Regions from separate parts of the Homo sapiens genome. Here region 1 is linked to region 2. The links come from fine-mapping of genetic effects on gene expression. A gene starts in region 2. The other region holds a variant in brackets. All regions are shown on one strand. Distances are from middle to middle. Region 1 overlaps LDAH (lipid droplet associated hydrolase). Region 2 holds the start of LDAH (lipid droplet associated hydrolase).

Region 1 (2,913 bases), 140 kb before region 2:
GCATACTCCTTATCTGGATTAGCTCTCATCTATTCCAAACCACCTATCCAAGTTCTACCTGCCCTTCTAGGACTAGGGGCAACCTCATCCTCTTCTCTCTTCCAAGAGCTTTGTCTTTATAGAACCCTTTATAGAACCATAGAACCACCCAGAGCTTTCTTTGACCCTCGTTCGTGCTCTGAGGATGCTCACCCAGCATCACACTCAGTGACGCCGGTCTTGCTCTAGAGATGCCTTCAGCCTGGTGGGAGAGGCCAGACCCATGTCCCACAGACACTCCTCACCTGGGCCAATGTGATCACTTACCCATGTCTGTATGGGGCACAGGCAGGAATCTCAATCCTCTTAAAAAGTGATTAGAAGAACACTCATATGAGCTTTGCTGTCCTCAGCACTCCTGCAGAAGAGCTTCATTCAAGGTCCCACAGATGTATTTGTTCACAGAGCACACTCAGTCCCAGCCTCCAACCTCTCCTTAAGGCCCACCCCTAAGGGAAGGAGCAGCCCAAATATATCCTTGCCTCTTCTCTTCTGCAAGAGAAGGCCAGGGATGAAGATGTCTCAAGCCATCTAAGAAATGCTTTGCTTCCCGCATCTTTTCTAAATCGACTGTTAGAACATCCTGGGCTGTGTGCAGGGAGGCCTGAATGGGCTGAGGCCAGAAAGCTGAGCCAGGTGAGCAAGTGTTATCCCTGCGTAAGAGCCAAAATGCTGACTGCTAGAATCAAGTTACAAGCCTGGTGAAACAGTGCAGGGACTGAGATACCACAGGGTCCTCTGCTACACTAAAGAGAAGAGAAATGAAAGGAAAAAAGGAAAAACAAGTTTGCTATCCTCCTTTAGGTACCATTTTATAGAGAATCCACCATATGCCAGGCAACATACTAAATGCTATATGCATGACCTCATTTTATCTCCATTAAAAAAAAAATGAGGAGCTGGGGGACTCAGGGAGGTGAAGTGAAGTCTTATGTCACAAACCTAACAAATGACAGATCTGGGATTTGAACCCAGGTCTTCATTTACTGCGTACAAGAGGAAATAGCCTTTTTGGAAAAGAAGCAATGAGACACGGATGCAGGAGATAGCATGGTGGGGTTTTAAAAATAATTATTTTTACAAATTCTAAAACATCTCAAACTTCCAAAAAATCTGCAAGTACAAAGAACATTATTTTCCCCTCAACCATCTGACAGTAAACAGACATGATGCCCCTCACCCCCAGATACCTCAGTGTCTCCAGTACAAACAAGGA[C/T]ACTCTCTTACTTCTTCCCAGTACAACCACTGAAATCAGAAAATTAACAGTGGCATCTTACTCCCAGCTAATCTTCAGACCTCATTCAAGTTGTGCAAATTGTCTCAACAATGTCTTTTATAACAAAAACATCCAATTCAGAATCAGATGTTGTGTCCAATTGTCATGTCTCTTCAGTCTCCTTTAATCTGAAATTGCTTTTTTTTTTTGCTCTTTTTTAAAAATTATTTTAGACACGAGGTCTCGTTTTTTGCACGGGCTGGTCTCAAACTCCTAGCCTCAAACGATCTTCCCAGCTCATCCTCCCAAGGTGCTGGGATCACAGGTGTGAGCTACGGCACCCAGCCTGTTTGTTTTGAATATAATGTAGGATGAAGAAAAATCAAGCCTTTGGTGGTCCGTGTCTCTCCAAAGGTTGAGTGGAGAAGCGTATGGTGAGAGGCCCTTGGTGGCCATGGACATCAGGCCACACAAGCCACAGAGGGCTTGTGGAGATGCTTATGGCTGGGAACAGACTAGGAACAAACACGGGTGTGGTCAAAGCTCAATCGCTGAGCACTCGGTAACTCTGCAGGAAGTTAAAACTTTCACAAAGACCATCCATGTGGTTGACTGGGACATACAGGCAGAGCTGCTTCTGGAAAATGGATTTCTTCCACTGTTTGTCCATTTTAGTCTAATCCCTAATGAAACAGAATGAACTTCAGTCTCTTGAAATCTGATTCTTCCACCTATGAAAAAAGCAATGAGAAAGGTGGCTTTTCACTTTAAAAGAGAGACTTTGAGCCGAGTCTAACTCAGGAGAACTGCTCAAATTGTACCCTCTCTTGCCCAACACAGAGATCAGGCCAGACCAGGTCAGAAATGCTGGTAAAACATTTATTTCAAAAATTCATTTGGTTTTCAGATGATAAATAGGAATTAAGAATGAGTATCTTTCTTAGGCTCTAAAAACCAGAAATAAGACACAATTTCATACGTGCAGACTTTTGAAATATGGAGTAACATTTAAAATAACAGATAAAAGAAAAGCTCTGAATGTTACTCTTTATTCTGGTAGGTATGATTTACCCAGTATTGTTTACATGCCTTGATTTAGTATCAGTGAGTATCTCCTGTATGCAAGGCGCTCAGAGCCATGATTCCTAGCTTCTAACATCCGATTTCTAGGCCTCTCATGCAGATGCCAATAAAGGATCTGTGTACAGCCCTGTGCTTACGGCCTATGTATCTATTAGCTCTTCCCCTTGGGCTAACAGCACTCCTTGTCTGGAGCTTGGCTTTTCCCCTCTGAGAAGTCACTTGCTGTGATGTAGAAGCTATGCCAAAGCACAGTAACTCATTCAGCACTTACCAATAAGTTGGCAGCAAATCAGAGCCAAATCTTTCATCAGGGGGCTTTAGGATTTGAGCGGAGGGACATCTCATTGTCCTTAGGGAATGATAATGCCATGAGGGATTTCCTCTAGGAGAAAAAGGAATATTTCTGATCCATGATCAACTGTCACTGCAGTATGTGGTTCTCAAGATTGAGTCAATTTAGGGGAGGCAGCAATATTGTCAGCCCACTCTAGGCCAGGGAATATGTGTCTTCTCTGCCATACCTCAATGTGTCTAGAGAAGGTGAATTCACATAACTTAATGGCTGGGTTTGGTTC
Region 2 (2,913 bases):
CATCATTCTCAGCAAACTATCGCAAGGACAAAAAACCAAACACCACATGTTCTCACTCATAGGTGGGAATTGAACAATGAGAACACTTGGACACAGGAAGGGGGAGATCACACACCGGGGCCTGTTGTGGGGTGGGGTGAGTGGGGAGGGATAGCATTAGGAGATATACCTAATGTAAATGACAAGTTAATGGGTGCAGCACACCAACATGGCACATGTATACATATGTAACAAACCTGCACGTTGTGCATATGTACCCTAGAACTTAAAGTATAATTTTAAAAAAATTAAAAAAAAGAAAGAAAAAATCCTCCAGTCTGAAGGCATTAAGTTATCAAAAAGCAAAATATTAAAATATAAAATTTTAGATGGGCACCCACTGTGTTGCCCTGATTATCCCCCTAGAATGCTACATGCTGGAAAGAGGGGCCTTAGCAGGTTTCTAAGTCTTTAACCTTCAGGTGGAAAAATGGGGAAACACACAAGAGACACTCCTACGTATAGTTTCAGAAAGAAGTTTAATTAAAAAACAGCTTTTGAGAATAAACATTCTGGAGATGCTTCTAAATCTTCTGGGTTTCTTTTGGTTGTATCTCTTTCTCCATACAGATTTGTTCTTTCAACTCAAGGACTATCAACTCTTTTTTTTTTTTTGAGACTGAGTCTCACTTTGTCGCCCAGGCTAGAGTGCAGTGGCGCCATCTCGGCTCACTGCAAGCTCCACCTCCCGGGTTCACGCCATTCTCCTGCTTCAGTCTCCCGAGTAGCTGGGACTACAGGCGCCCGCCACCACGCCCGGCTAATTTATTTATTTATGTATTTATTTTTGTATTTTTAGTAAAGATGGGGTTTCACCGTGTTAGCCAGGATGGTCTCGATCTCCTGACCTCCTGATCCGCCCGCCTCGGGGTCCCAAAGTGCTGGGATTACAGGCGTGAGCCACGGCGCCCGGCCAGGACTATCAACTCTTGTGTTTGGTACACAGGACACAAAGCAGGTGTCCGGTAACTACTTGCGAGGGAAGATACGAATTAACCAAGGAATAAAGTGTTCCAATCTGCATTCTGTCTTGCGTGGGGAACAAAACCAAACTAAGACCCAAGGATGAGGGTTTACGGTTAAGGTCTTCAGCGTGAATAAAAGGCGGCGTGAGCACTAAACGCCGGGGGCAAAGAACACTCCCGGCCCAGAGTTTGACCCCTCCTAGCGAGTTCTTCCCGGCCAGCTGCCCAACTTTTTGGCCTCTACTCCTCCGCGGGGGCACCATAAGACTCCCTACAGGTGGGCTACACTTAGGGGTTCAAATGCTGCATTACCGCGCTCGGGTGAGCGACTGCCCGGCCTGCAACTCAAGGGACTCCCAGGCCAAGTGGCTCCGAACTCGCGAGCTGTCGGAACAGTATTATTTTTGCTGCTACGGGCCATCTGGCCCAGGGCAACAGGGGCTCTGCGAGGAACCATAGAGAAGAAGGGGCGCCAGATCCCGCGTGCCTGCCCACCCGTCCTTCCTTTGGGCAGTCACCCTGAGCTCGGCAAGCTGTACCTCACCTGTCCACCTGGAAGGCTGCCCGCTCTCCCTGAGGGTCCTGGGAAGGCGGCACGAGACCGGAAGTGCCCCCCTCAGGTGACGTCACAGTACCGCGCCGGAGCTGATCCGGGAAGCCGATGTCAGCCTGGCGCGCGGCGCACAGCTGGCTGGGAGATTTCTTACTGGCTTGGAGCCGGTGGTCCAGATCAGAGAGACCTCTTGGAGGGTGTCGGGGTTTTCCTTTCTTTTTCATTTGAATTTTATCCGCCTTTTATTTTCTGTCATCCTTGATGTGCTTCTGGCTTCTGGCTTCCCTTTCCTTCTCTCTCATTTGTTCCATGTCTGCCCCTCTTTTCTCCCTCTTCCCATTTCCCTCTTTCTGCGTTACTAGTTGCATATCTTCCCCACATACACAGGAAAGTTGATTCTCATTTGATCATGTTCATAAGCATGATCAATAAAGTATTTTTTTAATTAAGGTGTTGCCAACTTTAAGAAAATTCAGAGAATAATATTAAGTATAGAGTTTATTTGGGCTCAGTGCTTGAGAATGGCCACTCAGGAGCTTAGATTCAAGTTGCCTTGAATATACACTCCAATTAGCAGCAGTCGGAGTAGGTTTTTTTTTTTTTTTTTTTTTTTTTTTGAGACGGAGTCTTGCTCTGTCGCCCAGGCCGGACTGCGGACCGCAGTGGCGCAATCTCGGCTCACTGAAAGCTCCGCTTCCCGGGTTCACGCCATTCTCCTGCCTCAGCCTCCCGAGTAGCTGGGACTACAGGCGCCCGCCACCGCGCCCGGCTAATTTTTTGTATTTTTAGTAGAGACGGGGTTTCACCTTGTTAGCCAGGATGGTCTCGATCTCCTGACCTCATGATCCACCCGCCTCGGCCTCCCAAAGTGCTGGGATTACAGGCGTGAGCCGGTTTTTAAGGAAAGGAGAGGAGGCAGAGCTTAACTTGTTTACCAAGAATTTATATTTAAAAAACTTAAGCTATTGACTGGCTATGCTTTCTTCCTTGTATCACAAATTCCAGGAACATAAAGATAATGGGTGAGGCAGCTAATAAAGAACAAAATGCCTTTAACAATTGCCCTAAGGCATGGGAAGGCGTGGCGGAAGCCAGTATTCACTTCTGTCCGGGTCTAATAAATTTTGCATACCTCACATAGCTCAGACAGCTCTGGGCTATTTTTCTTTTCTTAGTATGTACTTTTTTTAGACATAATACTGTTGTACACAATAATCTACAGTACAGTGTAAATATAAATTTTATATGCACTGGGAAACCAAAAAAATTCTGTGAACTGCCTTATTGTGATGTTTGCTTTATTGTGGTAGTATGGAACTGAACCCCCAATATCTTCAAAGTATGCTTGGATTTAAA

What was found.
Region 1: its variant is fine-mapped to the expression of LDAH in whole blood (INTERVAL, PIP 0.98).

Annotation. Positions count from the first base shown.
Region 1 is chr2:20,682,938-20,685,850 of GRCh38, forward strand. LDAH (lipid droplet associated hydrolase) reads right to left here. Exons shown (of 7, transcript NM_021925.4): 7 at 1,094-2,913. Among named protein-coding and RNA genes, the nearest start is that of GDF7, 17 kb to the left of the region's middle. The variant C/T (reference allele first, on the strand shown) is at 1,256.
Region 2 is chr2:20,821,489-20,824,401 of GRCh38, forward strand. It overlaps LDAH (lipid droplet associated hydrolase), which reads right to left and starts at 1,613. Exons shown (of 7, transcript NM_021925.4): 1 at 1,549-1,613. RefSeq lists enhancers at 489-1,314, 1,117-1,186, 1,407-1,796.